7 linked regions of the Homo sapiens genome follow. The protein of the gene in region 4 interacts with the protein of the main gene of each other region in a biochemical or structural test. Each region holds a gene or a part of one and is shown on either strand. Other genes may lie near its edges.

Region 1 (4,465 bases), on a different chromosome or scaffold from region 4:
TAACAGTGAGATTTTTAGGTAGCTCAGTCACCACAGGAGTGTGCCTTCTCAGTTCAAAGGTAAATTCCAGTGAATGTAGCATCTAGTTAATTGGTCAATTAGGTACCATTGTGGGATGTGAATTACCAAATAGGTTTTATTCTTTAGAATAAGGTGTTTCTTTTCATCTCAATTTTGTAAATGATGTTATATTACATAGTCAGAAATATATATATTGGCAAAATTAGTTACCAGTATAAGCTTCAAAATGTCACTATTTTCACAAATTTTTTTTTTTTTTTTTTTTTTTGACATGGAGTCTCACTCTGTCGCCAGGCTGGAGTGCAGTGGCATGATCTTGGCTCACTGCAACCTCTGCCTCCCAGGTTCAAGTGATTCTCCTGCCTCAGCCTCCTGAGTAGCTGGGATTACAGGCGTTTGCCACCATGCCTAGCTAATTTTTGTATTTTTAGTAGAGACGAGGTTTCACCATGTTGGCCAGGATGGTCTCGATCTCTTGACCTCATTATCCCTCCACCTTGGCTTCCCAAAGTGCTGGGATTACAGGCGTGAGCCACTGAGCCCGGCCTAGTTAAATAAAATTTGATAAACACGATGGACTTGGTTGTGTGTTTTCTGGTTTTTCTGAGATCTAGTTTGAAAATTCTGACAACTAGCAAAGTATATGGAAGCTTCTTCAGGAAATAGTAAACATATTTCTTTTTACAGCCTAATAGTCCCAGTGAATATTGTTTTTATGTGGATAGTGATATGGTCAATGAATTCAAGTTGGAATTGGTAGAAAAACTTTTTGCTGAAGACACAGAAGCAAAGAACCCATTTTCTACTCAGGTATATGAACTTATTTGTTTTATATTAAATTTCATTAATTTTTAGTCTGAAGTGACTTTGAGTTTCACTTGTTTTTTATTTATAAGGTGTGGCCATTGTAAAAACTCATGTATTTGCTGTTTTAAAGGACACAGATTTAGACTTGGAGATGTTAGCTCCCTATATCCCAATGGATGATGACTTCCAGTTACGTTCCTTCGATCAGTTGTCACCATTAGAAAGCAGTTCCGCAAGCCCTGAAAGCGCAAGTCCTCAAAGCACAGTTACAGTATTCCAGCAGACTCAAATACAAGAACCTACTGCTAATGCCACCACTACCACTGCCACCACTGATGAATTAAAAACAGTGACAAAAGACCGTATGGAAGACATTAAAATATTGATTGCATCTCCATCTCCTACCCACATACATAAAGAAACTACTAGTGCCACATCATCACCATATAGAGATACTCAAAGTCGGACAGCCTCACCAAACAGAGCAGGAAAAGGAGTCATAGAACAGACAGAAAAATCTCATCCAAGAAGCCCTAACGTGTTATCTGTCGCTTTGAGTCAAAGGTATTTATATGTAACATTCAAGTTATAGTTCTTTTATTATTTTTGAGATAAATGTATGTGATAGTACATGATTTTTAAACTTATAGCAAACTTTCTGATATATATGCCCTAACGCAAATTCTTGAGAACTCAAAAAACTTTCTAAATTAACCTCATATATTTTTTCTTTTTCTTTCTTTTTTTTTTTTTTGAGACAGAGTCTCGCTTTGTCGCCCAGGCTGGAGTGCAATGGCATGGCACCATCTCAGCTCACGGCAACCTCTGCCTCCTGGGTGCAAGAGATTCTCCTGCCTCAGCCTCCCGAGTAGCTGGGATTACAGGCATGCACCACCACGCCCGGCTGATTTTTTTGGTATTTTTCATAGAGACAGGGTTTCTCCACGTTGGTCAGGCTGGTCTCAAACTCCCGACTTCAGGTGATCCGCCTGCCTCAGCCTCCGAAAGAGCTGGGATTACAGGTGTGAGCCACCATGCCCGCTCCTATTTTTTCTAAAATAATTATAAATTCTAAAATTACCTATCTAAATGGAGGAGGGTCTTCTGACACCTTTAAAATAAAATCCAGCTCAGTACTGTAAATGTGTTTACAGAACTTGTTTAAAGTTCTTACAGTTGTTTAAATCAGACTAGTTAACTACCCTCACTACTTAGATGCTTCCATTTCTTAGAGCTCTTTTTTAAGCTTATCTGAAGAAAAGCCCTTCCAATTTAAGGGTTATTTCCAATTGCACATTCCAAATTGAGCCTTCCATCTTCAGCATTCAATATAGATATTTACAGGCCCCTCTTTTAAAATTTTATTATAGTTAACTTGTATTAAAGTTGCTTTTATTTTTCATTACGTATTTGTAGAACATTAGCTATATATATATTGCAGGCTACATAGGTTTTCAAACTGTACAACAGGAATCTAAGCATGAATTGTTACTTCTATGGAGCTAGTTCAAACAAACATATGGACATGACCCAATTTTTAAGTTATACTTTCTGTATATAATTTGTAAGGGGATTTCACATATTTTAAGTTTGAGGCTATAGCTAGAAGAAATTAAGTTTTATCTAATAAGTGTGTGGAAAAGGGAAATGATTCCTTCTCTACTATGTCTAGACTAAGCCAGATATCAATAGCAATAGGAAAGAACCACTGTCGTAGCCAGAACACATAGCTTTTTTCCCTGCCTAACATTCCCACCTTGACCTAGAGTGCTGGGAGAGGTCTTTTCCCTAAGCTTGGAAAAGACATTGGGGCTTTAGATGAACTCAGAAGTACTTTACATTACTTTATTTACTGTGTCACTTACTCACTTTTGACTCTGAGCTCCACGAGGGCAATCACAGTGTCTTGGGCATTTTAGTGATACTAATACTTAGCTCATGACCTAATGTGTAGTACTTCCTCAATAAATGGTTGTTGAGGCAGGGCGCAGTGGCTCATCACTGTAATCTCAGCACTTTGGGAGGCTGAAGCGGGTGGATCACCTGAGGCCAAGAGTTTCAGACCAGCCTGGCCAACATGGTGAAACCCGGTCTACTAAAAATGCAAAAATTAGCTGGGCGTGGTGGCACGTGCCTGTAATCCCAGCTACTTTGGGAGGTTGAGGCAGGAGAATTGCTTGAACCCTGGAGGTGGAGGCTGCAGTGAGCCGAGATCGTGCCATTGCACTCCAGCCTGGGCGAGAAGAGTGAAACTCGGTTTCAAAAAAAAAAAAAAAAAAAAAAGTTGTTGGACTGACAGATGCATGAATACAGTAGTAAAAATGACAATCACTTATAAGTTACAGTTTACTATCAGCTACAGAGGATGGGATATCCAGTTTTCTGAACAACTGTTCTCTTGTACTTGTCAAAGCCAAAGTGTAACAACACATCAAGTCACTTTAGCAATTTATTTTTGAGACGGAGTTTTGCTCTTGTTGCCCAGGCTGGAGTGCAATGGCGTGATCTCGGATCTTGGCTCACCGCAACTGCCGCCTCGCTGGTTCAAGCAAATCTCGTGCCTCAGCCTCCCGAGTAGCTGGGATTACAGGCATGCACCACCACACCCAGCTAATTTTGTATTTTTAGTAGAGACAGTGTTTCTCCAGGTTGATCAGGCTGGTCTCAAACTCCCGACCTCAGGTGATCCACCTGCCTCAGCCTCCCAAAGTGCTGGGATGACAGTTGTGAGCCACTGTGCCCAGCTAGCAACTGTTTTTAAACATTAGTTCCAATGTAGTGTACACTGAAAACTTTTATGAAAGGAATTTCAAAAATTAAGATAAACCATTAAAAACGTAATTACTAAGTACTACTACTACTACAATGATATTTACATAATAGACTGAGTTACATTTCATAAAGACAATATATCTGTATAAGAATTTTTAAACTTCCCTGTCTATATAATAGAAGTTTTAGAGAAATTTTTTAAAAACCAAAGAAAACTGCAAAATAAGATCACTTACCTATTTGGCATTCTCAACTGTCTGGAACAGCAAGGAGCCATTATGATTATGCATTTGGTTTGTGGGGTGTCTTGAAAAGTCAAAATAATGTAACAAAGCTGATGTACTTTACTCATTAGAACAATTCTTCACAATTTAATATTAATTTTAGATATACATAGTTCATGTTTGATAACCAGATCAATACTGAGTGAAAAATAGCATAGTGGGAAGAGCAGGGGAGGGGAGGTAGGGATCTGGAGACCTAGAGTGTACTTCCATATTGCAACTAGTGAGCAGTAGGACTTTGAGAAAGTTACCCAATAGGCCTCAGGGTTCTAATTTATAAAATGGGTATGATATGCCTGCCTTATCTGTCTTGGGAACTTAAGTAAGGTTAAAATGAACTAATGAACTTGAAATGTTTTATAAACTGAAAATGCTATACGAATGTGAGATTGATCTTGTATTTCAATAGTCCCAACAATATCACTGCATTGTTATATTAGGTGGAATAAAAGGACAATATTTAACTGTTTTGACTCTACAATAGTGTCAATTTAGTTGTGTTCAGCTCTATTTTATAAAATAGGGATACGCATACTGTAGAAAATTTCCTGTTAAATTAAGCTTTGACGGCCAGGTGCTCA
Region 2 (4,273 bases), on a different chromosome or scaffold from region 4:
GATTGTGCTACTGCACTCTAGCCTGGGGGACAGAGCGTGACCCTGTCAAAAAAAAAAAAAAAAAAAAAGATGAGGAAGCTAAGGCTCAGAAAACCTAAAATCAAGTGTTTCTGTTGCTGTCTCCTCCTCTCCTCCCCCAGATGGGAACTTGTCCTTCTTCTTAGGACTTCTCACTCAGAGCCACACCCTAATCACCTGTGGACTTGCACCTTGCCCAGGGAGGGACAGCCTAGCCTTGGCTGTCCTCCCCCAATACTGCTTTCCTAGTTTGCTGTCCACTTCCTGTCTGGCTCTCCTTAGCAACTTATGACACCTGTCACTTCTTCCCTGCCCCACCCACCCACTCTCAGTCCCAGCCCTCCACCCAAGAGTGGGGATTTGTACTGAGGTGTCTGCAACCCCCACCACAAACTGTGGACAGGAAATCTCCGTGCTCACCCCCAGCTCGCTGTGTGATCTGAAGCAAGTCACTGCGTCTCGCTGGGCCTCCCCAGCCCTAAAACAGCAGGGCTGGTCCACATATTCTCTGAAGACCCTTTCAAGGCTGATTCTTGTTTTCTTTGTTTTTTGTTTGTTTGTTTTTAGATGGAGTCTCCCTCTGTTGCCCAGGCTAGAGTGCAGTGGCTCAATCTCAGCTCACGGCAACCTCCACCTCCCAGGTTCAAGCTATTCTCCTGCCTCAGCCTTCCAAGTAGCTGGGACTACAGGCGCCTGCCACCACGCCCGGCTAATTTTTGTATTTTCAGTAGATGCGGGGTTTCGCCCTGTTCACCAGGCTGGCGTCAAACTCCTGACCTCAGGTCATCAACCCACCTTGGCCTCCTGAAGAGCTGGGATTACAGGCATGAGCCACCATGCCTGGTCTCAAGGCAGATTCTAAAAGACAGCCCTGACTTATTTTTCTAGAGACAAGCCAAACAGCATTTGTGGATTTATTTATTTATTTACGCATAAGCTTTTTTGTATCTTCAAATAGAAAAAGACATTTTACTCCTCCATCTTCTGAGGTATGGCCAAGCACTCTCCTTTGAGTGGGAGTGTGCTGTTGGGAGTGTCTCCTCATTTTTCTTGCACAAACCATTCCCATAAGGCAGGCATTTATTTTTAAGCAAACATTTATTGCATGCCAGATGGTGTTCATACATTATCTCATTTAACTCCCTCAACAGCCATGTGACTCAGGCATTCATATTAGTAATAATAGTTCATGTTTGCCTAGCACTCACAACTTGCCAAGCACTGGGCTGACAGCTTTACATGCGCCATCTCATCTAGTCTTCACAACCACCCTCAAAAGAACCATTATTTCATGGCTTGCACCTGTAATTTCCAGCACTTTGGGAGGCCGAGGTGGAAGGAACACTTGAACCCATGAGTTCAAGACCTGCCTGGGCAACAGAGCAAGAGCCCATCTCCACAAAAAGAAAACAAACAAACAAACAAAAAAACATTATTTCCCCTACATACCAGATGAGAAAGTTGAGGCACAGACAGGTTGAGATCCTAAAGCCAGTGAGTAGTAGAGAGGAGATTTCAGACATCCATGGGTTAACTCCAGAGTTGCTGCTCTTTTTGTAGGTTTTTTTTTTTTTTTAATTTATTTATTTTTGAGACAGAGTCTCACTCTGTCATCCGGGCTGCAGTGCAGTGACACAATCTTGGCTCACTGCAACATCTGCCTCCTGGGTTCAAGTGATTCTCGTGCTGCAGCCTCCTGAGTAGCTGGGATTACAGGCACATGCCGCCGTGCCCAGTTAATTTTGCTATTTTTAGTAGAGACAGGGTTTTGCCATGTTGCCCAGGCTGGTGGTCTCAAACTCCTGGCCTCAAGCAGTCCTCCCGCCTCAGCCTCCCAAAGTGCTGGGATTACAGGTGTGAGCCACCACTCCTGGCCCAAGTTGCTGCTCTTAACTGTGAAGTTCTCCTGCCTCCCACAGTTTATTATTATCCCCGTTTCCCCGGTAGGGAAACTGAGGCCTCAGAAATGAAGCCCCTTGCTCAGGATCAGCAACTGTGATGCAACAGAGGCTCAGAGCCCTGCCGCTGGGTAATGGCAGCAGCTTCCCCAGCTGGTGGTGCAGGTTGGCAGATCTATTGAGTCCCAGGGGCCCTGGCTGGAGGAGGTGTGCAGCCTCGCCTTCAGAGCCTGTTTTCCTTAACCAAGTGCCTCCCACTGCCCCCTGCCTGGGGGGGTCTGCGGAACCATCCTCAGCTACATTGTGCAGGACCTGATGGAGACTGACCTGTACAAGTTGCTGAAAAGCCAGCAGCTGAGCAATGACCATATCTGCTACTTCCTCTACCAGATCCTGCGGGGCCTCAAGTACATCCACTCCGCCAACGTGCTCCACCGAGATCTAAAGCCCTCCAACCTGCTCATCAACACCACCTGCGACCTTAAGGTCAGAGGGTTGGGCACCTGTCCCCTCCTCCCCCAGGGTCTGGGGCTTCCAGTGACCAGTAGAAGAAGCCTTGGGCAGGAGAACATTGCAAGCAAAGGGAACAGTGGAGGCAAAGACAAGGGGGCGTGACTGCTTAGGCTGCAGAGGCCTTGAGCGCCGAGCTTAGCAGCTAGGTCTGATTCCAGATTTGTGATTTCGGCCTGGCCCGGATTGCCGATCCTGAGCATGACCACACCGGCTTCCTGACGGAGTATGTGGCTACGCGCTGGTACCGGGCCCCAGAGATCATGCTGAACTCCAAGGTAGGAGGGGCTGCCCACTCCTGAAAGGAACGGACCAGTTCCCAGGAAGCCCTGGAGCTACCTCTGAGCCAGACACTGACCCCCATGACACAGGAATTCTACCCTCTGGGCCTTGGGCTCTGCAAGGAAGCTGAGCATTGAGCCCTCCAGGCCTCTGCCTTCTGCCTGGTGTTGGATCTAACTTGGAGGTGGTGGCCTGGCGCAGACAACAGGACCCTGTTGAGGCTGGCCCAGGAGCTCACCACTTCCTCCTCTCCCCCAGGGCTATACCAAGTCCATCGACATCTGGTCTGTGGGCTGCATTCTGGCTGAGATGCTCTCTAACCGGCCCATCTTCCCTGGCAAGCACTACCTGGATCAGCTCAACCACATTCTGGGTGAGGGAGGCCCGGCTGGCTGAGTTGGGGATGATTAGCTTTTCCGAGGTGAGATTTCTCGAGAGTCCAAGTCAGGGATACCACCACGTGTGGGGTGCCTCCAGCATCTCATGGTATCTCAATGAGGTATAGATATTATCCCCATTGGATAGATGGGAAAAGCAAGGCTAAGTCCCACACCTGAGGAGGCACCAGACCTAGGATTTGAGCCTCGGTCTGCCTGAACCCAGCCCCCTTGCTCTGCACCACCATGCTAATGACTAGGAGGTGACTGAGGGATTGGCATGGGTTGCTGGGCTGGGGGGTCTTGTTCTTGCCTTGTTGCCTATTCTGTTCCCAGAAAGAAAGAGGTGATCATTTACCAAGTCACCTCCTTATCCACAGGCATCCTGGGCTCCCCATCCCAGGAGGACCTGAATTGTATCATCAACATGAAGGCCCGAAACTACCTACAGTCTCTGCCCTCCAAGACCAAGGTGGCTTGGGCCAAGCTTTTCCCCAAGTCAGACTCCAAAGGTTCGAGAGACATGAGGGTGGGTGTGGGATAAACCTTGGGTGTCGTGGAGGGTGTGTGAGCCCAGCAGCCGCTGGAGGAGACAGGCAAAGCAATGCTTCTCGGAGCTCCTCCAGTCTTCCCTGTGACCCCTGACTCCTGCCCTTCCATAGCCCTTGACCTGCTGGACCGGATGTTAACCTTTAACCCCAATAAACGGATCACAGTGGAGGAAGCGCTGGCTCACCCCTACCTGGAGCAGTACTATGACCCGACGGATGAGGTGGGCCAGTCCCCAGCAGCAGTGGGGCTGGGGGCAGGGGAGCAGGGGGGCACGTAGGCATCCCCCATGCCAGGCCTGAGCCTTGCTGTCTCTACCACCCCAGCCAGTGGCCGAGGAGCCCTTCACCTTCGCCATGGAGCTGGATGACCTACCTAAGGAGCGGCTGAAGGAGCTCATCTTCCAGGAGACAGCACGCTTCCAGCCCGGAGTGCTGGAGGCCCCCTAGCCCAGACAGACATCTCTGCACCCTGGGGCCTGGTGAGTGTCTCCATGGCCCACACATGGACACCCTGATACTAAATATCTATATCTGTATATCTATATCTATATCTATCTGTACATGCCTCCATACAGCAGCAAGCTTACCCCACACCCATGGTCAATGTGTCTGGTGACAACAGAAGTGCCCAGGGGGC
Region 3 (4,465 bases), on a different chromosome or scaffold from region 4:
GTTACTGGTTTCTTCTCTGCTCCCTCTTCTGATGGTCATCAGTCTATGACTGTTTCAGACTTTTGTGACTGCTCCAGCCCATATGTGGGAGTGGAACATTCCAAACACCATGCCTTCCATTCTTGCTATTACTGAGATTGTATTTGCAAAGCCACCTGGCTTCTTTCTAAAACAGTTCTCTTAGTCCTTTCATTGAGACTTCTAAAATGATCTCAAAAGCCTATAAAAATAACAAGAGACAGCAGCCTTCACATTCAAGTCAAGTGCCTTATCTAAAACCTTCCTAAAATAGCATCAACATAGAGAAATCCTTTTCTGTGGAAGAGCTCTTGAGTGCTGTGTTTTAGACTTCAGTTTAAAAATTAAACCAAGCACTTTAGGAAAGTAACAACCTCAGGGTTTCAAGCAGAGACACCTTTGTTCTCATTCCTTGCAACGTAACCAAGGATGTGGTATAACCACTGGCCTTGTTATACAGTATGAGAGGAACCAGTACAACCTTCTTGGTATAAAGCCATGAACAGCAGAATTCTTTTTCAGGGTTAAATAATCCAGTTAGCATTCAGTAGCATACAACCACAAGAAAAAGCAGTTAACCAAGACAGTACAGCAGTGTTTCAAGTGGCATTTCCAGGGACCTGTTAAATTGATAAGTCTAAGAAGATGAGCACATACAGGTTAGAAAGGAAGTGCTGATATCTGAAGGGAGGATTGTTGGAAGGGATACAAGGCGAGGCACATGCAAGTTCCCTCCTAAGACCCAAGCACACTCACACAAGCCGGCTCTCAGAGAGGCCACAGATTTGGGACTTGGAGAGACCAGAGGATCCTCATAAGAGCATAGGTATAGGGCAGCTTTTGGCCATCACAGCCCAAGTCTCTTGTTTTAATTCAGCTCGTCATATTTGGCTAATAGTTTAAATCCTGTGGCCATTAGTCATCATAGAAAATATAATAAAGAAAAATATATAAAACTTCTGCTATTGGGGAAATTCCCATAAGGGTGTGAGGATTTGAGGGGGAGGGGGAATGTACTTCTGCTATGAAATGCTGAGCGGCACATGGAAATTTTCGAGCAGTTTTAGAAGTATGACCTTTTTCTTGGTGTATGTGCATCATGTCTATGTCAGAGTTTAGGCCCTTTTCAGAAGTCTTCTTCCAGTATCACATTTCAAGAAGCAATAGTGAAACCCTGAGATCATCCGTTTTAAAATATTTCTCAAGTAGCAAAATCACAATTTAGTTTTTTAGGCTCTTCTGTGCCGGAGTTAATCCCAAGTACGATATACTTGCTATTGCTAAGGAAGAGGCTTGAGTAAAGTGGCACCTGATAGCTTATTTTAGAGAAGATCCAGCCTGTACCTCGTGTCCCAGATGTAGTGCTGCTGCGAGATGCTTTAGTGTGCTCTGCACCTCAATCTGTCCATGCTCTGGAGTGGTCATCTTCTTAGACATTCATCTGAATGTCTTTAGAACAGTGCACATGTATCCCCTATGCAGGATTGCTTAAGGGATTAAGAGATGGCTTTGGAGTAAGACAGGCCTGGGCTTGAATCCCAGCTTCACCACGTATTGGCCTTGACTGAGTTATATGACGCCTGCAAGTCTCAGTTTCATTAGCTGAAAAGTGAAGATAATATTACCTAACTCATAGGATTATTGTTATAGTAAAAAGACAATATATATCAAATGCTTAGCATAGTCTGGTAAATCAAAGCTCCCAACAAATAGTAGCCACTGGTAAAATGATTGTTATTGTTATTGTTTTGAATTTTAATAGTATGTTTTTTAATAATTAAAAGAATTACGCTCCTGTGAGTGACTTTGACACCACCAGTATGTTCAGCCTCATTAGCGTAAGCTCTTAAGTTCCTTCTATCATTCTTATTTTTGTGCCTCTACTGCATGCTAGGGTTGTAAGGCTGACTCAGACAGAACCTGCCCCAGAGATGACAGGACAGAGAACGAGAAAAATGTGTAGAAAACTGCAGTTGCATAACCAAGCAGTAAATTTGAGAGGGACAACTTGCTCCACCTAGGAGGTTAGGAAAGTATTCTCTGAGGATGTCAGGTTTGAACTGGAATATAAAGGATGGAGTAGGCATTGTTCAGGCAGAAGAAAGGAGCAAAAACATTCCAGGCAGAGGGAATATTTGCTGGAATGTTTGCAGGAGTGGTGGGAAATACAATCACTTTGTTTCTTCACAAGTTTACTGCAAGAATTTTCTTCCAGTAGTTAAAAGCTTCACTCCATTCTCCACTCTTGGGATCTGGAAAGATCTTTAAAAAACCACCACACTGTATTTTGGAGGAGGGCAGCAGGGCTAAGTGAGGTAACTAAGTTTTTCTGAACAATTCCTAGTGCCAGGCATTCATTTTACATAGAATCTGTGTGTCAGGAAAAGTCAGGGGGAAAGGTAGAGAAGAAAACCGCCCAAAGCCATGGTATAGAGGCAGGATTGGGATTTAAGCTTAGGTCTTTCTGGGCTGGAAGCCTCAGTGTGTTTATACATCAAGGGGTCAAGACCTGAATGCTCCCAGAGGCCAGGAAGGTACCACAAATAACGTAGCAGCCTTGGGTAGGCAGTTGGGAGGGACCAGTCCTCTGGAGACAGCATCCCACCTCAGATTCAATGCATTTTATAGATTCAAAACATTTTAGGGCCAAATAAAACTAGGTATGAGAGCAGATTCCATTCTTGAGTCTAATCACATCTTGGGAATCTTTTCTTTTTCATTAACATTTTAGTTAATTATTGCCACTGTGTTTTCATTCCAGTGTCTTACACTTAGCAATCATCCACCTTCATTCTCAACTTGTGAGGGATCTACTAGAAGTCACATCTGGTTTGATTTCTGATGACATTATCAACATGAGAAATGATCTGTACCAGGTAAGCAGAAATCTCAAGAAAACAACTGAAGAAAAATCTGTAGTTTACTTTTTCTTCTGTTATGTTTGGGTGCATGTTATTTTTAGTAATGTTAACAGTAGCAAAAACAAAAACAAACCTTTGTAGGTAATATCTAAAATCCCATTAGTTGAGAATGTTACTTTATGATGTAGGATCCTTTGATCTGTGGGTATAACAGCCATCAAGCCACAATGAAATTCAGCATCCCGCTGGGGGAAGGCAAACTTTAAACTTTAGAAATCAAACAGTTTTTTCATTTAAGAGGGAGAAACTAAAGTAAAAATGTCACATCTGTCAAGAAAAATAAAGTTAAAAAAAGTTTGAAAAGCCAGTAATTTATAATAATTTTGAAGTCTACTGAAACATACCTTGACAACATCCAGATTAAATGTATATCAAATGAAGCATTCTGAAATCACCACACAGAAAGGTTAAAAGTTTGCTTGAGGAGGAAAAGGTGTCTTTCAAAAGCAGAAAGACAGCTCCAAGTGAGGAAAAGTGGGAACACCAGAGTTTTGCCCAAATCAGGTTTTCTTAGGAATTAATTAGGTGGGCTGAAAATACAAGTTGAGGAACTGTTTTTTCCAGAGGTCTTCCAACACTGCAAAGGGAGAGTTAGCTGGAGACACAGCGAGGCCCTTTGATGGGCATATGCAGAATTCAGGGAGAGGCAAGGAGCCTGGGAGCCACTTCGGCAGAAGCAGAGCTTGGACGTTGGTGATGGGAGCCCAGTGACCCCAGCCAGCCTTTCTGGCTGAGCGACTGCACTGGCATGAAACCAAGATGGGGTTCGGCTCCTGAGGTTTCCTCCTTCCTGCCCCTGATTGCTTTTCCCACCTCACTGTCTTTCCCCTACTCCCACCAGTCTGCTGTATGGGGCTCCTGCCCTTGCCCACTTCTTACCTTTCCATTTGTCTCCTTCCCTTCATCGACCCGAAGCATCTTCCTCATCCTCCTTGGAGAGATGGTTTGCTGGTTCACGTGTATCTCTCACTCCAAAACTATGGCCAAAATCCTGTGTAATTATTTACTTAGTAAAGATATTTGTTCCTGCTCTCTCAGTTTTTATAGCAGTGATGTGAATCATTTCTATTTCCTCACTTTAAAGGAAAATGCTTTTATTATTTTAAAGAAAATTAATTAAAACTTCATTTTCTTTAAAGGAAATTAAAATATCTATTTTCTTATTTTTATTTCCATTCTTTAAAATGTGCTTTAGGCTGGGTGCGGTGGCTCACACCTATAATCCCAGCACTTTGGGAGGCCGAGGCAGGCGGATCATGAGATCAGGAGATCGAGATCATCCTGGCTAACATGGTGAAACCCCGTCTCTACTAGAAATACAAAAAAAAAAAAAAAATTAGCCAGGCATGGTGGCAGGCGCCTGTAGTCCCAGCTACTCGGGAGGCTGAGGCAGGAGAATGGTGTGAACCTGGAGGCTGAGCTTGCAATGAGGCGAGATCGCGCCACTGCACTCCAGCCTGGGTGACAGAGTGACGCTCTGTCTCAAAAAAAAAAAAAAAAGTGTGCTTTAAAGTGCATTTAAAGCA
Region 4 (3,851 bases):
TTCTTTCTCGAATGAAAAGCTGCTGGTTTACCCTCAACCCTATTCATTAGCATTACCATGAGTGAATTTATATCTAATTATTTCCACTTGCCCTGTTCTCTTCACACCAAGGAAGCTCCAGATCCAGTATCTTGTTTGGCCTCAAAACAGAAGCAGCTTCTTTTGTCTCCCAGCAGTAGTGAGCCACTCAGTCTCTTCCACAGGAAGTTTGGAGCCTACATTCCTTGAGTCAGGAGCTTATTACAGAAAAACCCCGTTTCCCTGAACTTTTGGCTAACAGAAATTAATTTAACTGACATGCATATTGATTCTGAAATTTTTTTCCTAAGTTTTTTTCATTTTTTTGAATGAGTTTTTTAAATTTTTTAGATGACCAAAACTTGCAGGGCAGGGGATGCCCAGAAGAGTGGTGAGATAGTAAAACACTTATTCCCTCATCCTTTCAGGTTTTCAGGTTGCCCATTTATATTCATTTACATGTCATTTGACTGTCTCACTTTTTACCCAGAACAGTAACAACCCACACCGTCTTCCTTCAGGGATTTCCAACTGGCACTCTGTGGGTGCTACACAGAATGCAATTTAATGGATATTTCTCAGCCTGGTTCAGAATAAATTGATCCTTTGATCCCAGAAAGTATATACTGAAGTGTGGGATAAAGATTATGATTAGGGGAGGGTTGGAGACAAAAGCTGTAAATTACTATGGCTGATTTATTTCTACTATATACATATATATTTTTTGCTTTTGTATATCCTATATAGGAAACTAAGCATTGTATTTTTTTTAACAAATCTAAAAAAGCACTATGAACTACAGGTGTTTGACTTTCAAAATATATTTTGTATTGTTAATATCTTCACATTGTGTGAATACTGGAAGCTGCAGATCTTTGCTAGGACGCAATAAATTTATATACTTTTTGAGGGGTTCTTCTGGGGTGCTAATCAGGCCCCTGTTATGCTTAGGGGGAGCCCTGGTGCTACTTGCTTGAAGTTTTCAGTGTAAGTACCCTGATGCCTTTTGGACCTTGGGATCAGATCAAGAGTTTTGGAGATCAGGTACCAAGGAAATAAGGACAGTCTAGCTGCCTCAAGTGAGGGGCCCTTTGCATAGCTCTCCTTCCCCCTCACTGAAGCTGGGTAGCCTATTGGGGTTGAGAGGGAAAATGTGAAATCTCAGAATTTATCTCCCTTAGAAGAGAGCCAGTAACTTATGTACAAGGATGAAAGAAAGGTCGCAGCAGTAGCTTTGGGGAAAGGGAGGAAGATATGGCACTTCTCCAACCCCGGAAAACATTGCTTTTGAAAACTGCTGATAAAATATGAGCCGGTTATTACTTCTGTTTGGGAGACTGTGCTCTCTGTGGTGCCTCTCTTGGCTCTACTCCACAGATACCAGACCTCTTCTAAGAGGATGAGCAGACCAGCTTTGAGGTTGACCTGTTTCTCTTTGTCTGCCTTCCCAAAACACCAGCCCCCAGGAAGACATTAAGCAGCCTTAAGCTTAAATTCCTACTCCCTCTTCCAAATTTGGCTCACTTGCCTTAGATCCAAGGCAGGGAAAGGAAAAGAAGGGGGGTCTCTGGCTTTATTACTCCCCTAAGTCTTTACTCTGACTTCCCCAAACCCAGAAAGATTTTCTCCACAGTGTTCATTTGAAAGAGGAGTATTTTGTCCCATTTTCCCCTTCCTCATTATCAAACAGCCCCAGTCTTCCTTGTCTCTGCTAAGAAAGTAGAGGCATGATGATCTGCCTCTCAACTGCCCTAAGTCCTAGCTAAGTATCAGGGGAAAAAAAAAAAAAAAAAGCCTAACAAATGGGATTAGACTAGGGCTGCAAGTAGTGAGGATTTTGTTGATACCTCTGCTGGGATGTGTGCTTTCCCATATCTTGCCTTCAGGAATTACACTGTGCCTTTTCCCCAGGGATATGGGCTCTGTCTACCCAGTGCTCCAGTTTCCCGGTAACTGCTCTTGAACATTGTGGACAAGGGCAGGTCTTCATATTTTTGATCATCCCTTTCTCCCAGTGAAATCCCATAGCCCTTACCTAGAGTCTAGGGCACAAAGACTTCGGGGAAGATACACTGAGATTGACCTGAGGAGACATCTACACACACCAGTGGCAGCTGCCCCAGGGCCTGCTTCCCCTTCCTAAGTCTGTCATCCTCTGGAAGGGATGGGTGGTGCTCCAATCTCTGGTGCCTAAAAACCCAAGTTTATTTCTCTCTTAACACTGGCAATAACCAGTCCACACCACTGTTGCCTTTTAAAACCTCTTAATAATCTCATGCTGTGTTTGTTTTGATTCCAATCCAATTATCACCAGGGCTGTGTGGGTAAATGCTTTTAAATGCTCTCTCATCTTGTTCTTCCCCCTCACCCCCCACTCTTAGGTATGTATGATGCTAATCTTGTCCCTAAGTAAGTTTCTTCCTGCTCCTTTTGTATCTTCCTTTCTTGTCTTTCCTCCTACCTTTTGTCTCTTGGTGTTTTGGGACTTTTTTTTTTTTTTTTTTGGCCTTTTGTACAAAGATTAGTTTCAATGTAGTCTGTAGCCTCCTTTGTAAACCAATTAAAAAGTTTTTTAATAAAAAACCATGTCTCTGGTGTATTGAAGAGGGTTGGGAATGGTGAGAGTGTACGTTTGTAACTTCATACTCTGAACCTAACAAAGGTTTCCAGCTACACTGTGTTGTGCTCCATACATGTTAATTAGTGCAATTGCCCTATATTTAACTCCCGGGTAAATGGTTTCATGACCAGATCAATGTGCCACAACTACACGGAAATGTGGAGGACCAAGACAAACAGGCAACACTAACTTTATTTTTTTTCTCATATGCTTTTTTATTTTGGAATAATTTTAGATTTACAGAAAAGTTGTAAAGCTAGAACAGAGTTTCCATATAATCCTTACCCGTTTCCCTCATTGTTAACATATTACCATGGTACATTGTCAAAATTAAGAAACTGACATCGTGGCCAGGTGTGGTGGCTCACGCTTGTAATCCCAGCACTTTGGGAGGCTGAGGTGGGTGGATCACGAGGTCAGGAGATCGAGACCATCCTGGCTAACACGGTGAAACTGTCTACTAAAAATACAAAAAATTAGATGGGCGTGGTGGCGGGCATCTGTAGTCCCAGCTACTTGGGAGCTGAGGCTGGAGAATGGCGTGAACCCGGGAGGCGGAGCTTGCAGTAAGCCGAGATTTCACCACTGCACTCTAGCCTGGGCGACAGAGCAAGACTCCGTCTCAAAAAAAAAAAAGGTTTGTCTCTTCTCCCTCATTTGTTTAGTCAATTTATATTAGTATGTATTAATGTGTATTTATTTTATACATGGATTATAATCCATTACTATTTTGTTGCTCAGATTTTCCCAGCTACAGTCATTGTTATCTTTTGTCAGCCTATAAGCATGTTCTGGCTGGGCGCGGTGTCTCACCCCTGTAATCCCAGCACTTTGGGAGGCTTAGCTGGGTGGATCACTTGAGGTCAGGAGTTTGAGACCAGGCTGGCCAACATGGTGAAACACTGTCTCTACTAAAAATACAAAAACGTAGCCGGGCGTGGGGGCAGGTACCTGTAATCCCAGCTACTTGGGAGGCTGAGGGAAGAGAACTGCTTGAACCGGGAGGCGGAGGTTGCAGTGAGCCAAGATCACGCCATTACACATTGCCTGGGCAACGAAGCGAGACTCTCAAAAAAAAAAAAAACATGTTCAAGTATTCCCCCTTCCCCCATTTTAAAAAACCTCAGCTTCCTCTTCAAGCTACTGATTAGTTTTTTCCATTTCCAAAGTTAGTGAAAGTAGTTTACACTCATTTTTCTCTTCCTTTATTGAA
Region 5 (4,465 bases), on a different chromosome or scaffold from region 4:
ACTTTTCATCCTAGCACTTTGGGAGGCTGTGGCAGGCAGATCACTTGAGGTCAGGAGTTCAAGACCAGCCTGGCCAACATGGTGAAACCCTGTCTCTACAAAAAAATAACAAAAATTAGCCAGACATGGTAGCGGGTGCCTGTAATCCCAGCTACTCGGGAGACTGAGGCAGGAGAATGGCTTGAACCTGGGAGGTGGAGGTTGCAGTGATCCGAGATTGCGCCACTGCACTCTAGCCTAGGCGACAGAGTGAAACTCCGTCTAAAAAAAAAAAAAAAAATTGCAGATTTATGAGTCCTTGTGGCCCAAACCAAAGTTTAAAAATAAGATGAGAGAATTATAGACCCAGAACAACCTGTAGCTTCCTTGTGAGAGGTTGGTTATGTATATAATAAAAATCCAAATTCTCATCTAATAGTTGAATCCTTATTAATAGAACTTTTTTTAAGGGTTTAGAAGCTTCTACTTTGATACCGATATTAATATATATCGGTATCCAATAGTTCTCAGCCATGTTGATGAACTGAGAAGTTCCATGAGTCACAGCCGTTTTATAAAGTACTGTACTTGACGGATGGCTGGTTCATCGTGGCCTCTGATAGACAAGGAAGGACAGAATGAGAGAGGAACCAGTGGATCTGCTTGATTTTATTCTTTATAAAATCAAGGATACTTCCAGAAAATACTGACTTCTCATTAAGAGATTTCTTATGACAAGCCTTAGGATAAAGATAGGGAATGCCAGTTTATCTCATTAGAATCTAGCGATTCAAAACAGCCACTCTCTGGGACATCATTATATTTATTGTCTCCTTTTCTGTACCTTTGAAACTTTCTCTGGTGAGAAGGTAAAAACAAGCCAGTCTTTCTTATTTTCTTTCACTCATTTCTGTATAAATGTGAGCTCCTCTGAAGCAGACATCTTTGAAATCCCCACACACTGCCAGATAATGATAGTTATCAATGAAATAGTTGCTGGTTCTTTGATGTACAATCAGCCAACCAGTATTTACAAGTCTTAATTCTCCTGTTCTTAAGCATAATTAAGGGAGGTGAAATGGGCAGAGCAAATGAAAGCACCATGAATAAATATAAGCCAAGAAATAGGTGGCTAATTCTGCTATCCTGTTGCTTACCTTACATTCTGATTGTATCGTTGGCAGACTCTGCGTGTGTCTCACCTACTTCCCTTTTTTTTCTGCCCAGCTTTCCCAGCCAGCTGTAAGCATTGAAGGACAGGTATCAAATCCTCCATCTACTAGTAGCACAGAAGTGAATTCTCAGGCCATTGCTGAGAAGCAGCCTTCCCAGGAAGTGAAGATGGAGGCCAAAATGGAAGTGGATCAACCAGAACCAGCAGATACTCAGCCGGAGGATATTTCAGAGGTGAGAGTAGGGCAATTACTGTTTGATTTGGTTAGGACCTCAGTATAGGAACCCAAGTTTTAAAAAATATTGCAGAAAAATATTTTGATAATTAGATCTCATGGCATAGATTTTGCATGAGAAAGGGTGTTCAGATTACTGATTCCCAACTAGATATCTTTGGAATACTAAAAATTCTTACGTTTTCTTTTAGTCTAAAGTGGAAGACTGTAAAATGGAATCTACCGAAACAGAAGAGAGAAGCACTGAGTTAAAAACTGAAATAAAAGAGGAGGAAGACCAGCCAAGTACTTCAGCTACCCAGTCATCTCCGGCTCCAGGACAGTCAAAGAAAAAGAGTGAGTCTCTGAAGCCATTCGTTCTGGAGGTAGCTGAAGAAACCAAAGACCCAGGGCAGAATTGCGGTCATGCCTCTTGGGCCTCAGAAGTTGCCATTATTGTGATTTCATTAACCTGGAAGCCCTGGGCCTGGTCTCTTCATTGTTACTAATAATTTTTCTTTCTTTTTTTTTTTTTTAATATTCACTTGCAGCAACCAATGAGTTAAGTCATTCCCCTCATTTCTTCAGGGTTCCCTGTGTTAGTACACCCTAAAAATTGTCTCATTTTTCAGGAGAGAGAAATGTTTGTAAATAGCCTTGACTAAAATGCAGGAAAGAATAGCAATAGTAATAGCATTTGTCATTCACCTGCTGTGTGCTAAGTATCCACATTGTCTCATTTAATAATTTCTTTCTTTCTTTTTCTTTTCTTTTTTGTTTGGAATCGGATTCTCACTTTTGTTGTTCAGGCTGGAGTGCAGTGGCGGGATCTGAGCTCACTGCAACCTCCACCTCCCAGGTTCAAGCGATTCTCCTGCCTCAGCCTCCCGAGTATCTGGGACTGCATGCGCATGCCACCATGCCCGTCTAATTTTTGTATTTTTAGTAGAGACAGGATTTCACCGTGTTGGCCAGGATGGTCTCGATCTCTTGACCTGGTGATCCACCCGCTTCGAGCTCCCAAAGTGCTGGGATTACAGGCATGAGCTACCACACCCGGCCTCATTTAATAATTTCACAACAGCTCTGAGGTTATTGGCCTGAAGCTTAGCAAAGTTAAGTAACTTTCCACAGGTTACTCAGCTGACCCTACTGCCTGGGCCAGGAAGCAGACCCAGGCAGTCTGAGGCAGAGTGCTCAAATCCAGCCATTCCAACAAGTGTTAATTGACTATTTTAGGACTAGAACTTTTGTGGCTCTAGTGATCTGCAAAAGGCACCAGGTAGGACATACCTGAGGAGTGAGTCTGCTGGCTCTTACAGATGATATATATTGAAAAGTGTTCCATTAATACAATGTGTTGTAAAATGTTGGGATTAAAAAATTATTTTCATTTTAAAAATAAGACTTGTATATATTGAGGTGTTTTAATATGGGCTGTAACAAACCCAGTCTTACTATTGGCAATCTCTCTTTAAAATGTGTGTTCCCTCATGCCTGTAATCCCACCGCTTTGGGAGGCCGAGCGGGCAGATCACTTGAGGTCAGGAGTTCAAGACCAGCCTGGCCAATATGGTGAAACTCTGTCTCTACTAAAAGTACAAAAGTTAGCCGGGTGTGGTGGCTCTCACCCGTAGTCCCATCTACTTGGGAGGCTGAGGCAGAAGAATCACTTGAACCCGGGAGATGGAAGGAGGTTGCAGTGAGCCAAGATGGCGCCACTGCACTCCAGCCTGAGTGACAGAGAGTAATTGTCTCAAACAAATAAATAAAATAAAATGTCTAATTTCACAAGTTTATTCAAATAGTCCTTATTTTTAGCACAGCTAAATATGAGTGACAAGCATCTTCGTAGTCTGGTTTCCCCCCACTCCATGGCAACCCCCCAGAGGTGAAAATTATCTGAAGTAACAAATATACTCTACCGATGATGAAATTTTTTTTGCCAATTAAGAAAAAATAAGGCCCTTGCTGAAATTGAAAGCTTTTTAAATCACTGGCTTCTCAAAGAACTGTTTGATTCCATTTGGGACACACCAACAAATTTTTCCGGACTTTTTGGGAAATATCATTGAGAACACATTTGAACTTAATTTGATCAACTAAGTCTATTATTTTAGCAATACCATTTTTGTTCTCTCTTCTTTTAAACTTAAACCTAACATTTGTCATTAAAATAGTACATGTCTCTTTTTCTTTGGCTCTAAAATACCAAGCATTTGAACGAAGGAGTCTTCTCTTCTGTGCCCCTGACTCCTTGTAGTATAAGACAATACCTGATCTAGTCTAGTTTCTGACTTGTTAAATACTGATGTCATGAAGAAAGACTTTTCTGTTCTTGCTTGACTGCATCTCCCTCTTAACACGAGTATCTTGTGCACTCTTTTTTTTTTTTTTTTTTTTTTTGAGATGGGGCCTCATTCTGTTGCCTAGGCTGGAGTGCAGTGGCGCCATCTCGGCTCACTGCAACATCTGCCTCCCGAGTTCAAGCAGTTCTCTTGCCTCAAGCCTCCTGAGTAGCTGAGACTAGCATGCCACCATGTCCGACTAATTTTTTATATTTTTAGTAGAGACGAGGTTTCACCATGTTGGCCAGGCTGAAACTTCTGACCTCAAAGTGATCTGCCCACCTCAGCCTCCACCGTGCCTGGTCCCATGGACTCTTATTTGGCAAAGTCTCTTCATAAATTTTTAGAAGCCTTTGGATTCTGCTTCTAATTGACCGAGTCTGTCTTCACTGACTTTGTGACTGAAAAGTTAAGCTGAGGGTGAAGAGTGTTTTAAGGTGATAAGACACAATGTTTTTTAGGAGCTGTCTGAAACAAAGCGGGGCTTAGAATCTAGAATCAGTGATTGAGCCTGTAGTGATATTTCCATGGGGACAGAGTGGTTAATTTTGTTATTGATTCTTGAGATGCTTTTAGAGCTTCAGGCTGAATGATTTTTTAAAGTTCTTCTGCTTAATTGGTAACTAATTTCAAATGCACTTTTTTTTTTTAAGTTTTCAAACCAGAAGAACTACGACAGGCACTGATGCCAACTTTGGAGGCACTTTACCGTCAGGATCCAGAATCCCTTCCCTTTCGTCAACCTGTGGA
Region 6 (3,743 bases), on a different chromosome or scaffold from region 4:
TATGGCTAGCAGCTAAAGTTTTTGTGATTAATGTTTCTTGGAATTTGCAACATGACAACTTAAGTTTCTCTGCCTCATTGATTTCCTATATGAAAATTGGGAAATTTTAGTAATTTTCAGGGTATAGAAATATCAGACGTTTTATTTTAACCTGGAAACATATACTTTTAAGCTACTGTTTCAATGCTTTTTATATTTTTTTTATTTTGTACCCCTTACTACCTCCTGACCCTCACCCCAGTACTTCCCTCCCTCCCAGCACCCATGCGAGTCCCTCTATACTTCTATACATTAATTTTTCCCTATTTTAATTTTCTTTAGCGTTATCGAACTCCTTCCAGATCCAGATCAAGGGATCGTTTCAGACGTAGTGAGACTCCTCCACATTGGAGGCAAGAGATGCAGAGAGCTCAAAGAATGAGGGTATCAAGTGGTGAAAGATGGATCAAGGGGGATAAGTAAGATTTAACTATTATTATTTCAAATGTAATGATAAGTGTTTGCTTTTACTATTATACATAAAGTTATTGTCATTTTAGTTATTGCTGAATACCTTAAGAAAAGTAGAATATCATTTTAGCTAATAATATCTACAGTTCTTTTCCTAATAACATTTCCCCAATTCTTTTTCTTATTTTTTAGGAGTGAGTTGAATGAAATAAAAGAAAATCAGAGAAGTCCAGTTAGAGTAAAAGAGAGAAAAATAACAGATCACAGGAATGTATCTGAGAGTCCAAACAGAAAAAATGAAAAGGAGAAGAAAGTTAAAGACCATAAATCTAACAGCAAAGAGAGAGACATCAGAAGAAATTCAGAAAAAGATGACAAGTATAAAAACAAAGTGAAGAAAAGGGCCAAATCTAAAAGTAGGAGTAAGAGCAAAGAGAAATCAAAGAGTAAAGAAAGAGATTCAAAACATAATAGAAATGAAGAAAAGAGGATGAGGTCAAGGAGTAAAGGAAGGGATCATGAAAATGTTAAAGAAAAAGAAAAGCAGTCTGATTCTAAAGGAAAAGATCAGGAAAGGAGTAGAAGTAAAGAGAAGTCTAAACAGTTAGAATCAAAGAGTAATGAGCATGATCACAGTAAAAGTAAGGAAAAGGATAGACGCGCACAATCCAGGAGTAGAGAATGTGATATAACTAAAGGTAAACACAGTTATAATAGCAGAACAAGAGAACGAAGCAGAAGTAGGGACAGAAGCAGAAGAGTGCGATCAAGAACCCATGACAGAGATCGCAGCAGAAGCAAGGAGTACCATAGATACAGAGAACAGGAATACAGGAGAAGAGGACGGTCACGAAGCCGAGAGAGAAGAACACCACCAGGAAGATCAAGAAGTAAAGATAGGAGGAGAAGGAGGAGAGACTCACGGAGCTCAGAGAGAGAAGAAAGTCAAAGCAGAAACAAAGACAAATACAGAAACCAAGAGAGTAAGAGCTCACACAGAAAAGAAAATTCTGAGAGTGAGAAAAGAATGTACTCTAAAAGTCGTGATCATAATAGCTCAAATAACAGCAGGGAAAAAAAGGCTGATAGAGATCAAAGTCCCTTCTCAAAAATAAAACAAAGCAGTCAGGACAATGAATTAAAGTCCTCCATGTTGAAAAATAAGGAGGATGAGAAGATCAGATCCTCAGTGGAAAAAGAAAACCAAAAATCAAAAGGTCAAGAAAATGACCATGTACATGAAAAAAATAAAAAATTTGATCATGAATCAAGCCCTGGAACAGATGAAGACAAAAGCGGATGAGTGAGTTATATAAACTTACTTCCATTCTGTTTCGGATTTTAAGTTTGAGAGACTTGCTAATGAATCTCCTTTATGTTGTTTTCCTTTTCATTGTTTTTGGATTGTTTTATGTTTGTCCTTTTTTTTCTTAATGTGGATTTCATTGAGTTGATTTTTTGATAATCTGCAATCTGGATAATTTGTACTGCTAAAGTTTTAATAAACTCGACATGAGAAAAACACTTTGGTGTAGTACTGTGTGCTGTGTTTAACTATTTTATGTATGCATTACTGTGTTGCAACAATTAGCCAATAGCATCCTAATTTGTTTAGTCAGCCATTTGGAATGGTTGCAATGCATTGTTGCAAAAGCTTGTGTTTCTCATGATTAAAGTAACTTTAGAAGCCACTAGAAGACATCTTGTATAGATTTTCTGATTGCGTTATAAATAGAGGTTTGCAGCGGTTTCTTTTAATTACACAGAAGCAGGGTCCTAATAACCTGAGATCTTAAATCATCACTTTTGATTTTATAGTAATTTGTGCTTTAAAATAGATGTATTTATATTGCACTTCATACTCTATTCTTTATAGTTCGAGCCATAGCTTGTTTCCTATTAATGCTTTTCCTGTCTAGTTGTGTTTTACTTAACTGCCTATAAAAATCGTAAGAGTAATTTTTTTCAGTTGATGTACTGATTGAGCTTGAGTTGCTGTTATACAGCATTTGACAGGAACTATACCTTGGAAAATCAGATTGTGATTCTCAGTTCTGTGTTGCTTTTGGTTTGAAGAGTTTTGGGAACGTTTTAATTATTAATTACCCTTCTCTAAACTTTAAAAAAAAAAAAGCTTTTCTCATTAAAACATACCATTTGTGCAGGTCCTTAAGCTATACAGATTCTAAAAATTGTTAGTATTGAGACATTAACTTCTAAGATTTCTCTTTTTTGGCCTCCAACCTATATAGAATTGAGTGTTAACTCTGCATGGATTTTGTTTGTTTTAATTGAACTGACTTCTCTAACTCTCATAGCTGTGAGTTCCAAATGGCAAGAAAATGCATCTTTTCTATATATGTATCACGATAGGCTATAGCATGTTTATGACTCTGGTTTCTTTCTCTTCAGGTGGTTTTATACCATTACTGTTAATGTTATTTTAACTTGGCATGTATAACATTGCCATATAGAGTAGAGTAGAAAGTTGCAAATTTTGATAGTTTACAGAGTTAAACACTAAACATATCCAAAGTCCATTTAGAGTTTTGGGTGTTGTATTTTGCCATTTTTGTGATGTGTGGCCTTTTATTCTGTAATCTCTTCTAAATAAAACATTGAACATCCAGCAAACATAAAACCTGCCTCATTTGAAAAGGAATTTCAAAATTCCAATTAATAGGATTCTCTAGAGAGTTTTGTACTTTAATATTTGTCAGTGTAGTGTCAACTCTGTTACCAAGGTAGCTTCTTGGTAAATCCAGTAGCTACTCAATGCTATTTGTACTGAATAAAGCAATTATTAACATGATACTTCCCACTATTGATTAATGCAATATTGATATATTTGGCGTTGTGGTAGCTGTTGCAGAATGAATAGTGTAATGACCATAAGATTGCTTGGAAAATTGTAATACAGATATCCACAATGAATTCTTTCCAAAATTTTTTTTTCCGATGATAAAAGTAGTAGATGTTTATTATAAAATCCAAGGTGATTGATTCCTTAGAGACTGACCACAAACCCACATTAGGGATAATTGAGTCTGAGTGCCCAAGCTATATAACGTTATGTAGTTTAAGCAAGTTATTGTTTGTCTTAATTTCAGTTAACTGCATTTTAAAATTGTTGTTATAAACTATTTGAGCTTTAAGAAAGGTGCTATTTAAGAAAGGATTTCTAATAACAGTTAAATATTTTTTTTAAGTCCATGCTAAGTAAAAATTCTTACATGTTGTCTGATCCCAGAGCTTTATCTACTAAAAATTATACATAAGGATTTCCAAATCTT
Region 7 (3,435 bases), on a different chromosome or scaffold from region 4:
AATAACACTTGTTAATAGAGGCCATTTAACTGATGCTAGCTATTGCCTACTTGTGCTTTATATATGTCAGACTCTGGGATCTGCAGTTTCTCTTGGGACAAATCTTAGATATTATCTCAAAACTTGGATTTTAAAAGTGTTCTGTCCTAACAGAACCACCATGCCATTTGCTCCTTTCTGTTGTGGAAGATGGATACTTTAAGATAATACCTGATTCTCATTTTCCTGTTAGGGGCCTACCAATATGTTTTTTTTTTTTTCCCTCATTAACTAAAATCATTCCAAAGTTCTATGTACAGAGATACTGAGACTAGGGTAAAATATTCTACATATTTTGTCATGAGAAGCTCTTTTTAGTTTGAAGAAATAAGTGCTTTGTTAATATGAGATTCCTTCCATGGCAGTCATTTTTAGCTATTAAACTAAATAGGCAAACAATTAATTTAATCATATCTTTTGAATTGTCCCAGAGTCACCACATACTATGGACATGTCAATTATATTAGAAGATGAAAAGCCAGTGAGTGTTAATGAAGTACCAGACTACCATGAGGATATTCACACATACCTTAGGGAAATGGAGGTAAAGGTTCTCTGAATCCAGTTTGTATAATGTATTTGTTAAATGTGGCTAAATGAAATTGAGAGGATAATGTTTAAATTTTTAAACTAATGAATTATTCTAATGCTACAGTTAAGTTTATAGCATGTAGCCTCTCGTAATTAATGGTAAAATAATCTAATTGCAGTTTTTACACTAGAATAATTTTAACACTATAAATAATTTTCTCAATAGGTTAAATGTAAACCTAAAGTGGGTTACATGAAGAAACAGCCAGACATCACTAACAGTATGAGAGCTATCCTCGTGGACTGGTTAGTTGAAGTAGGAGAAGAATATAAACTACAGAATGAGACCCTGCATTTGGCTGTGAACTACATTGATAGGTTCCTGTCTTCCATGTCAGTGCTGAGAGGAAAACTTCAGCTTGTGGGCACTGCTGCTATGCTGTTAGCCTCGTAAGTCTACCTTGGTTTGTTTAAAAGTGATCACGACCTTTTGTCTAGGGAAGAAATTGATTTTTTTAATGGTGACCTTTTAACATACACCAGGCAGAGTCAGTGACTACTTTAGGGATGGCAATGTGCTGGGGCTTAGGGCAGTGGAGGAGGATGAAACTGTTCTAATCTAGAACACTAATTTTCCCCCAACTGGATTCCTTGAACATGATATAGTACACTAGGTTACAAATTTTAAAACATTTTCCTTCCAATATTACTTTCTGGCATATAAGCAGTGTCTCTTTTATTAAGAAGTAAAGGCTGGGTGCGGTGGCTCGCGCCTGTAATCCCAGCACTTTGGGAGGCCGAGGTGGGCGGATCACTTGAGGTCAGGAGTTTGAGACCAGCCTGGCCATCATGGCGAAACCCTGTCTCTACTAAAAATACAAAAATTAGCTGGGCATGGTGATGCATGCCTGTAATCTCAGCTACTAGGGAGGCTGAGGCAAGAGAATCGCTTGAACCCAGGAGGTGGAAGTTGCAGCGAGCTAAGATTGCACCACTGCACTCTGGCCTGGGCGACAGAGCAAGACTCTTGTCTCAAAAAAAAAAAAAAAAAAGAAAGAAAAACTAAATTTAAAAATGAAAACATGAAACATGTTTTCCTAAGACTTGTATTTCCTAAATTTTCAGCTACTTGGTGAACTCTGGCATTGTTCCCATCTCGAGAAGTCTCATGCCTTTCATTTACTTCCTTTGACTGAACTGGGGAAAATATCTCAAAAGTCCTTTATTGATTTGGGCCTTTTAATTAGCAATTAGCTATCCAGTCTCTACTAGAAATGATGATCAAGTGTCTGGAAATGCAGTTGGTGTGGATTTTGGATTCATTCCATATTCTGCTAATGGGATTTCAGAACTGGGATAAGGAAGCTTGCTTCTCTTTTAGGACTGATTACTTAAAACTTTTTTCATTGTAGAAAGTTTGAAGAAATATACCCCCCAGAAGTAGCAGAGTTTGTGTACATTACAGATGATACCTACACCAAGAAACAAGTTCTGAGAATGGAGCATCTAGTTTTGAAAGTCCTTACTTTTGACTTAGCTGCTCCAACAGTAAATCAGTTTCTTACCCAATACTTTCTGCATCAGCAGCCTGCAAACTGCAAAGTTGAAAGTTTAGCAATGGTGAGTTAACTTTCATTTTGTTGAATGGTGATTCTTTGGTAATAATTAGGGGTAAGCCCTAATTCCTTTGTAAAGGAACCTAGTTCCTTTGTACAGCAGTGGTGAAGAGATTTAGTATTCAGAGGGAGATTAATGCTGCAGTATGGAAGAAAGCCTACTGCTGGCAAAAGATAATCTATATCAGGAAAGCACTAGAAGCAGAGGTCTAAGGATGACATCTTGGGGATGGGTAGTCAGAAGAGTTGTTTTTTAAAAGTTAATAAAGGAGGGAAAATACAGGATGAGGATGGAACAAAACACTAAAATGATTGATATGTTTAAAGATGAGGCTGTGAGATATTTTTTCTAGAGTTGCTACAGAGCCGTTATCAAAGGCAGGAAAAAATTAGGTTAGAAGGCAGAGGTTTGACATTTGAATTCTAAACGCTCTTGTGATCATAAAGTATTTTTTATTCCAGTTTTTGGGAGAATTAAGTTTGATAGATGCTGACCCATACCTCAAGTATTTGCCATCAGTTATTGCTGGAGCTGCCTTTCATTTAGCACTCTACACAGTCACGGGACAAAGCTGGGTATGTATTACGGTCTTCACACACCTATCTTGTGACTGAAATGCCTGTGCCAGATTAAATAATAATTGTCCTACAAAACTGAGGGTTGCCTAGATGTTCTTACTTGGAAAAACTTCAAATATATATAGTTGACCTTTGAAAAACACAGGTTTGAACTGTGTGAGTCCACTTACACATGGATTTTTTTCCAATCAAATGTGGACTGAAACTACAGTATTCAGGGGATTCACAACCCATATATATGGAAGGGTGACTGCAGGACTTGAATATGTACAGATTTGGGTATATTTGGGAAGGGTCCTGGAACCAATCCCTCATGTACACTGAGGGATGATTATATACTGTTTAAGGCATGTTACCTGTTGAACAGTGTTTGTTAGGTAGTAAGCTTAGTTGTAACTTGGATTGAAAGGTGAGCTTTTTTAAAAGCATCTGACCTGTTGCTGGCAGGGAAAGTAGTAGAAAATGGATCGAGGGATGGAATAATGGCCTGAGAAAACTAGTAGTTGGAAAAGTTAAAGATTAGTACTGGAATTTAACATAAGCTTAATGCCAACTATTTACTGTGTTTGGTGTGTTACTAAAAGCAAAACTCAGGGGTTCTCTATTCCCTTCTCTGTAGCCTGAATCATTAATACGAAAGACTGGATATACCCTGGAAAGTCTTAAGCCT

What was found.
Region 1: the proteins of SP1 (region 4) and HIF1A form a complex in vitro, tested with the Homo sapiens proteins (2 studies listed by BioGRID).
Region 2: of the proteins of SP1 (region 4) and MAPK3, one has a biochemical effect on the other in vitro, tested with the Homo sapiens proteins (2 studies listed by BioGRID).
Region 3: the proteins of SP1 (region 4) and NFKB1 form a complex in vitro, tested with the Homo sapiens proteins (one study listed by BioGRID).
Region 5: the proteins of SP1 (region 4) and EP300 form a complex in vitro, tested with the Homo sapiens proteins (4 studies listed by BioGRID, with this or other methods).
Region 6: the proteins of SP1 (region 4) and PPIG form a complex in vitro, tested with the Homo sapiens proteins (one large-scale study listed by BioGRID).
Region 7: the proteins of SP1 (region 4) and CCNA2 form a complex in vitro, tested with the Homo sapiens proteins (2 studies listed by BioGRID).

The regions. Positions count from the first base shown.
Region 1 is NC_000014.9:61,739,797-61,744,261, forward strand, and holds part of HIF1A (hypoxia-inducible factor 1-alpha), read left to right. Parts: intron 1-708; coding exon 709-831; intron 832-958; coding exon 959-1,392; intron 1,393-4,465.
Region 2 is NC_000016.10:30,116,478-30,120,750, reverse strand, and holds part of MAPK3 (mitogen-activated protein kinase 3), read left to right. Parts: intron 1-2,212; coding exon 2,213-2,402; intron 2,403-2,587; coding exon 2,588-2,704; intron 2,705-2,966; coding exon 2,967-3,081; intron 3,082-3,465; coding exon 3,466-3,597; intron 3,598-3,747; coding exon 3,748-3,857; coding exon of another isoform or gene 3,858-3,914; intron 3,915-3,960; coding exon 3,961-4,083; 3' UTR 4,084-4,115; intron 4,116-4,273.
Region 3 is NC_000004.12:102,598,116-102,602,580, forward strand, and holds part of NFKB1 (nuclear factor NF-kappa-B p105 subunit), read left to right. Parts: exon of another isoform or gene 1-1,620; intron 1,621-2,779; coding exon 2,780-2,894; intron 2,895-3,529; exon of another isoform or gene 3,530-3,916; intron 3,917-4,399; exon of another isoform or gene 4,400-4,465.
Region 4 is NC_000012.12:53,413,846-53,417,696, forward strand, and holds the end of SP1 (transcription factor Sp1), read left to right. Parts: 3' UTR 1-2,601; downstream 2,602-3,851. UniProt on the Homo sapiens protein: Transcription factor that can activate or repress transcription in response to physiological and pathological stimuli.
Region 5 is NC_000022.11:41,150,627-41,155,091, forward strand, and holds part of EP300 (histone acetyltransferase p300), read left to right. Parts: intron 1-1,206; coding exon 1,207-1,386; intron 1,387-1,579; coding exon 1,580-1,724; intron 1,725-4,368; coding exon 4,369-4,465. UniProt on the Homo sapiens protein: Functions as a histone acetyltransferase and regulates transcription via chromatin remodeling. Acetylates all four core histones in nucleosomes. Histone acetylation gives an epigenetic tag for transcriptional activation.
Region 6 is NC_000002.12:169,635,771-169,639,513, forward strand, and holds part of PPIG (peptidyl-prolyl cis-trans isomerase G), read left to right. Parts: intron 1-321; coding exon 322-458; intron 459-642; coding exon 643-1,753; 3' UTR 1,754-3,743. UniProt on the Homo sapiens protein: PPIase that catalyzes the cis-trans isomerization of proline imidic peptide bonds in oligopeptides and may therefore assist protein folding. May be implicated in the folding, transport, and assembly of proteins.
Region 7 is NC_000004.12:121,818,127-121,821,561, reverse strand, and holds part of CCNA2 (cyclin-A2), read left to right. Parts: intron 1-470; coding exon 471-583; intron 584-796; coding exon 797-1,020; intron 1,021-1,982; coding exon 1,983-2,190; intron 2,191-2,648; coding exon 2,649-2,762; intron 2,763-3,384; coding exon 3,385-3,435. UniProt on the Homo sapiens protein: Cyclin which controls both the G1/S and the G2/M transition phases of the cell cycle. Functions through the formation of specific serine/threonine protein kinase holoenzyme complexes with the cyclin-dependent protein kinases CDK1 or CDK2.